2 linked regions of the Homo sapiens genome follow. The protein of the gene in region 1 purifies or fractionates together with the protein of each later gene. This does not show direct contact. Each region holds a gene or a part of one and is shown in the gene's direction. Other genes may lie near its edges.

What was found.
Region 2: the proteins of ERICH1 (region 1) and XRCC4 purify together in Homo sapiens (affinity purification with mass spectrometry; one large-scale study listed by BioGRID and IntAct). This does not show direct contact.

What each region holds. Positions count from the first base shown.
Region 1 is NC_000008.11:724,406-728,224, reverse strand, and holds part of ERICH1 (glutamate-rich protein 1), read left to right. Parts: intron 1-3,819.
Region 2 is NC_000005.10:83,350,016-83,353,834, forward strand, and holds the end of XRCC4 (DNA repair protein XRCC4), read left to right. Parts: intron 1-3,109; coding exon of another isoform or gene 3,110-3,115; coding exon 3,116-3,227; 3' UTR 3,228-3,745; downstream 3,746-3,819.

The sequences.
Region 1 (3,819 bases):
GTTGGGCTGGCGGAGCCTCCTCCCTGGTGGTTGGTCATTGTGAGGGATTTGGCTCTGGCCCTCTCCCTGACTCCATGTGTGCTTCAGGGACATTTCCGGAGGAGGCAAAGCTTGTGTGGGGTTTGCTTGGCAGAGACGATCCTCAGATGCTGGGGTGAGGACCACAGCCTCATGGAGGCGGGAGCCCCGTCCCAGGGCCCAGCCCTGAGCAGTCAGAGGAGTGCCAGGCTGTCCGGCCGCTCCCTGTCTCCCTGCATGAGGCCTGTCCTCACCGCCTGCTGCTGTGTGTGTGGTGGGAGGATGCGCCCCTGGATTTAAGCAGAGTCCCTGCCCCACAGTGCCCCCTGCATTCGTCTCACTGCACCCTGAGGCCAGTCCTTTGACTCCTTGTCCTGCAGTTTCCCATCAAGGTGGTCCAGTGGTGCCAGCCGCTCGCGTCAAGGAGAGAGCTCCAAGGGCACCATGCTGCTGGCCCGGCCTTGCTGGCCCGGCTGGGCCTTCTGTAGGGAAGGCCACAGAGCCCTGTCCCAGAGGCCTCCTCCTGGTAGGCACCCAGCCTGGTGTCAGCCTGGGGAACATGTGCTGGAGCGCAGGATGCTTGGATGCTTTTTAATAAGAATCCATTCTTGCTGTGACTGCTGCACGCACAGGACAGCTTCACTCGCCCTTGCAGGTGCATCCTCCAGGGCCAAGGGGTCTGCAGCAGGCAGGCGGCCTCTGTCTTCCTGAGACTCCTCAGATGAAGTTGGAGCTGCCAGTGCCTTGCTGTGAGCAGTCACACTTCCTGTTCACCATCTCCCTGTCATCTTCTGGTTTCTCCTGCACCTCAGGGAGTGGATTGCCCCAACTTCACACGCCAGGAATCGCTGGCGCTGTCCACGGTGCTGGCACTGGTGCCAGTTCCTGCAGCTCTGGTAGTCCGGGAGAGATGTCTGTGTGTAGGTGTGGGTCTGTGAGCTTGTGTGTGCATATTGTCAATGTGCATGCATGTATGTGTGCCGCTGTTCCTATGTGTGCACGTGTCTGTGTATGCCTTTGTGCACACGTGTCTGGTGTATGTGTGCATGCATGTCTGTGTGCATCTGTGCAGGTGTGTGTGGTGTGTATCTGTGCATGCATGTGTGTGCCTTTGTGGTGTGCGTGTGTGTATGTGTATGTGTACGTGTGTGCATGTGTATGTGCCTGAGTGGTGTATGTGTGTGCATGCATGTGTGTGCCTGTGTGGTGTGCGTGTGTGTATGTGTATGTGTACGTGTGTGCATGTGTATGTGCCTGTGTGGTGTATGTATGTGTGTTTTGCATGTGGTCTGTGTGTACATGCATGTCTGGGATGTGTGTGTACATGTGTGTGCATGTGTATCTGTGTACATACGTATGTGCCTGTGTGGTGTCTGTGTCTGTGCATGTGTGGTGTGTGTCCATGTGTCCATGTTCATGTATGTGTGTATGTGTACATGTGTCTGTGTGTGGTGTGCGTGTACATGCATATCTGTTTGCCTGTGTGTGCCTGTGTGTGTACATGTGTGTGCCTGTGTATGATGTGCCTGTGTACACGTCTGTGTGTGGCACTTGTGTACATGTGTGTCTGTGTGTTCACCTGTGTCTATGTGCATGCATGTGTGCCTGTGTGTGTATGTGTGTGCGCCTGTGTGTCTTGTGCCTGTGTACACGTGTCTGTGTGTGGTGTGTGTGTACATGAGTGTCTGGCTGTTTGCCTATGTATATGTGCATGCATGTGTGCCTGTGTGTGTATGTGTGTGCACCTGTGTGTTGTGTGCCTGTGTACACGTGTCTGCCTGTGGCATGGGTGTACATGTGTGTCTGTGTGTTTTCCTGTGTGTCTATGCATGCATGTGCGCCTGTGTATGCATGTGCGCCTGTGTGTTGTGTGCCTGCATACACGTGTCTGCGTGTGGCGTGTTTGTACATGCGTGTCTGTGTGTGTCCTTGTGTGGTGTGTGCATCTCCCAGCTGTACCCTGCAACTTGCCTGTGATACCTGCCTCTCCCTTGGAGTCCCAGAGCTGAAGATGCTGGCTCAGATTTGTTTCCATTGGAAAGAGGCCCCTTTTTCTTCTTACAGCATGGCGTTGGTCTGGTTGGGTGCCTGGTGACTCTGTTGGGGCCGACTTTCATTCTGGCCCCGTGTGTGGGACTGTGTGCAGAACTGGACAGGAGTCATTGCTGTGCTGCAGGAGAAGTGGGGCTGTGTTCATTGACACATGTGGCTTTGACATTTTCTACTCAGATGTGGTAGAATCCTTCCTCCAGAACAGGAGTTGGCACCTCTTTTCCCATCTTCAAGGAAGGACAACGTGCTCAGGAGCGCTTCCCAAGTGAATGACTGAATGAATGAACGAAGGAGGGGAGAGAAGAAGGAAGGAATCAGCCTCATGGAACAGGGAGGTTTAGAGAATCCTGGCAAAGGAAGAGGCGCCGTGCCAGCCAGGTCCTGCGGGAGTGTTGGTGCATGGTGAGGTTGGGGGGTGAGGGTCGGCCCCAGCAGGGAAGGGCAGGTGCAGGGATGGCAAGGCCAGAGCACGTGGGGATGAAGAGATGCGGTACTGCGACGGCTGGAGGAGGGTTGCAGGAGCTGCTCAGACATGGGGGCAGCTGCAGTCTCGGCTGCTTGCAGGTTGGGAGAGAGTCGTGCTTGGTGTACAGCTGGAGAGGGAAGTGGGCCGAGGAGGTGGTGGATGCCCAATGTGCCCATCCCTGACGGCTGGCGCCTCAGTGCACAGCAGGCCTAGGTCTCGATGGGGATGGCCACCGAGGTCAGTCCTGCTGGGCTGCTGCCTCAGAGCTCACTCTACTAATGCTCAGGTGGCTCATCTGTAAAGTGGGCGGCAGCACCGTGAGGACCCAGCCAGGTGACCGATCACATGCAAGGTTCTGATGGAGTCACAAGCTGGTCACTGCCGCTGGTCCTGTCCGCTGGGTGCAGTAGACACGGAGGTAGGGGACCCTTGTGCCTGTGAGAACAGAGCAGACAGGAAGCCGGAGAGGACAGCAGGCACGGAAGCCGGAGGGGACAGCAGGCACGGAAGCCGGAGGGGACAGCAGACAGGAAGCCGGAGGGGTCAGCAGGCACGGAGGCTGGAGGGGACAGCAGACAAGAAGCCAGAGAGGACAGCAGACAGGAAGCCGGAGGGGACAGCAGGTACAGAAGCCGGAGGGGTCAGCAGGTGAGCAGGCATCACTGCGTCAGGGTGTGGGACGAGAAACCACAGCACCCGAAAAGGACCACATGGTCCTTCGTGGCTGGCGCAGGGAAGAAGTGGGGTCCAGGAGGCCACAATGGGGCAGCCGTGGCTCCCTCGTGGTCCGGGCCAGGCGGCGTGGGTGCAGGAGGTACAGCTGCTTCCCGGGTTCTGGGTTCCACATCTTTGATAGCGTTCCTCAGTGAGCGTAACCTGCCCGTGCAAACAACACGGGGCTTGTCGGTGTGGAATCCCTTATGGGTTGCAAGTTCTTTGGGCTGAATTCAGGACCTATCTAAGGAAAAAGCCAATGTTTAATGAAAGTGGAAAAAATAACAATATTGGAGTAAAAGGTGTAGTTTATCTGGTGTCTCCTGATTTTCATAAAGCAGCTTGCTGAACGGCCTTCCCAATGACCTCTCAGCGTGTTTTAGCCCAGCCTTGTTTTGGTGAGAAACTGACTCCGAGAACTGAGTGGGCTGCTCTGAGGTCCCGCCCCCGTCGGGGCAGTGCCGGCCTCTCCGGAAGCCCCTGGGCTGCTCGCATCCCGCTGGGTGTGTTTACCAGTGCTTAATGAAAACTATTGCAGCCGCCCGTGAAGGTAAGGTGTTTGTGAACGC
Region 2 (3,819 bases), on another chromosome or scaffold:
TGGTGTTCTGTTCCTGCATTAATTTGCTCTGAATTATGGCCTCCAGCTGCATCCATGTTGCTGCAAAGGACATTATTTCATTCTTTTTGGTGGCTGTGTAGTATTCCATAGTGTATATGTAATATATTTTCTTTACCCAGTCCACCAATTATGGCCACCTAGGTTGATTCCATGTCTTTGCTGTTGTGAATAGTGCTGCAATGAACATGCCAGTGCATGTGTCTTTTTGGCAGAACACTTTGGGTTTTTTGGGAGGTATATGCCCAGTAACGGGATTGCTGGATTGGATGATAGTTATGTTTTAAGTCCTTTGACAAATCTCCAAACTACTTTCCACTGTGGCTGAAGTCATTTACATTCCCACCAACAATGTATAAGTGTCCCCTTTTCTCTGCAGCCTCTCCAGCATATATTATTATTTGACTTTTTAATAACAGGCATTCTGATTGGTGTTAGATGGTATCTCATTGTGGCTTTGATTTGCATTTCTCTGATGACTAGTGATGTGTAGCATTTTTTTTTCATATGTTTGTTGGTTGCTTGTGTGTCTTCTCTTGAGAAGTGTCTGTTCATGTCCTTTGCCCATTTATTAATGGGGTGATTTGCTTTTTGCTTGTTGATTTAAGTTCCATATAGATTCTGGATATTAGACTTTTGACAGATGCATATTTTGAGGATATTTTCTCCTATTCTGTAAGCTGACTCTTTACTTTGTTGATAGTTTCTTTTGCTGTGTAGAAACTCTTCAGTTTAATTAGGTCCCTCTTGTCAATTTTTGTTTTTGTTGCAGTTGCTTTTGGGGACTTGGCCAAAAATTCTTTGCCAAGGACAGTGTTGAGAAGGGTATTTCCTAGGTTTTCTTCTAAGTTTTTTATAGTTTGAAATCTTACATTTAAATTTTTAAGCCATCTTGAGTTAATGTTTGTATATGTTGAAAGGTAGGGCAATATGGTTTGGATTGGTGTCCCCACCCAAATCTCATGTCTAATTGTAATCCTCAATCTTGAAGAAGGGGCCTGGTGGGAGGTTATTGGATCCTGGAGACAGATTTCCCCCTTGCCATTCTCATGATAGTGAGTGAGTTCTCATGAGATCTGGTTTAAAAATGTGTGGCATCTTACCCCCCGCTTCCTCCTTCTCCGGCCATGTAAGACGGGCCTGCTTCCCTTTCACCTTCTACCGTGAGGCTTCTCAGCCATGTTTCCTGTACAGCCTGTGGAACTGTGAGCCAATTAAACCTCTTTTCTTTATAAATTACCCAGTCTCAGGTAGTTCTTTATAGCAATACAAGAATGGACTAATACATAGGGGCACAGTTTCAATCTTCTGCAAATGGCTAGCCAGTTTTCCATGCACCATTTATTGTATTCACCTTGCTTGTTTTTCCATTTCTTACTTTTAATTGAGATAGTTCAGTTATCTCTTTTGTCTAGGAGGAGCACAAGCAACTCTAAGACATTTTGGCCAGAGAAAAATGTTTAACGTGTTTTGAGTTGACAATGAAAATGTATATATATAATAATTATACTTTTATCCCATACTATATCATTTTCTCCTCCTTTGGAATATATTTTTAGATATTTAATTCCATGTTACAATAATTATGCCTGTATTTATTGTTAATTTTAACATCGCAAATCCCAGAGGGTAGTACTTGTCATCTTGAATGCATTAATGCCTAGCACCTTGGCACTCCTGTGATGATGTTGTCTGAAATTGGCTTGCTCAGAATAAGACAGAACATGTCCCAGGTCTAGTGGCAGCCAACTGTAGTTAATTGTCTCTAATCAAGATGCCAAGGAGAACTCATTTCTAATAATCTGTGCAACTAGGTAAGGGTGCAGGCTTTTAAAAATACTCATCACCTAAACACACTTGATATTTGGGGGTTTTCATTGGTTATTCTTCTCTGCTGTTAACGAAACTCTTACATAGTTTATGGGGTATTAGCAGGTAATAATAATAGTTTCCAAATTCTTTGTGGGAATTTACAAGCATTTACATTTACATCAACTCATTTCATCTTTAGACCACCTCTAGACAAATACTAATATCTCAGTTTTACAGTGGACAGAATAGAAGCCCACTTAGTTTAAATGACTTGCCTAAAGTTACATAGCTAACATGAAATAGACCTGGGTTCAAACTTGTGTTTCCTGACTTCAAGTCCCATGCTTTCTCAGCTATACCAAGGTGTTGTGACTCTACCCCCGCCTTTGAACTTGGAAATAGAGGGGTATTACCAAGTATTACTGGGTTAGCTCAACCTAATCATAATTGCCCCAGAGGCCACCTCTAATTGATAATATTAAGCATACTTTATTAAGGTTCCATAGAGAACCACTGACAAGGTTTCTACAAGGATATTAACACACACTCCACAGCTTTACTTCTGATTGAGCTCTGTTATTCTCTGGCACAGTCTTCCTAAGACCAATTAATAGTGATCATGGCAGTCAGCCTGTTATCTTAGGATTCAAAGAAAATATCTACATAAATATAGCAGTCAATCCATTGAAGTAGTGACTACAATACTGAACCTGAATAAAATTTAGTTTACTAAATGAAGATATGCAGATTCAATAAATGATTATGGACCAACATTTCATCAGCAACTGCTATAAATGTGAAAAATCATTATTTTTCATATATACACATGATCATCAGACCCACTAAAGGTAATTCATGTGACCAAAACTTTCTGCTGCTAAGAGATTAAAATGCATGTTAATCAGTAGAATTTAAGAAAGCCAGAGTAAAATGTAAATTGTGATGAAATCATTAAAGGAGTAACTTGAAAAACCTTCTATATCCTGGCATAAAAGTGATTATAGCACAGAGGACAGAATATTTTATTTCTTGACCTTGATTATGAGTATTGTTATAGGTTCTTGAATTTTCCTTAGGTCAGAATAGAGACATTAATTCTAAAGCAGTTAGAGAAATTAGTCTCTTTATCTCTTTCCTTATAGTTAATAGCATAGAGAAATAAATCTCTAAACCAATTTGAAACAGGATTTAACTGTCATTTCACTTATGTGTCTCTTCATTTTCTTTTACTCTATAACAGAAGTTTTTAAAAATAAAACTATTTTGATTTTCTTTTCAGTTCTAGGCCTGATTCTTCACTACCTGAGACGTCTAAAAAGGAGCACATCTCAGCTGAAAACATGTCTTTAGAAACTCTGAGAAACAGCAGCCCAGAAGACCTCTTTGATGAGATTTAACAGTCTCAAAAAATACTTTGATGTTCACTAGACTATGTTTTCTATTCATTTCTTTAAAATGAAAAAGGAGAATTTCAAGTCAGCAGCCGCTATTACCGTATCTTACAATTTAATTACATACACAGTGAATTGAAACCATTGTGCAAAATGGATTACACATGTATACAAAGATACGATTTGATGATGACACTGGCACATTATTCTAAACTATTCATTCAGCATGCCTATAATTACATAAATTGTATGAGACTTTTTGTTGCAAAGGACACATTTATCATATTCATTCACACATATTATATGTGATAGCTGTCCAACATCCTGTCTGGGAAGATTTTGAAAACAGGACAAAGAAAACATCATTTTAAAATGTCTTCAGCTTTTTTTGAATAGACGTATTCAAACATATTCTGAACATTGATGTTTGAACATTTTAATTTGTGTGATGATGTAGAAAATATAATTTTAGTTTGTACATAAACATTGTGAAAATCTGATAATAAAATTTTTGATACATTGAAGATTTTGTGTTTTTAATAAAATGTGTTATTTAGGTTAACTTTTATTTTAGTAAGTAACAGGTTTTTAGAAACTG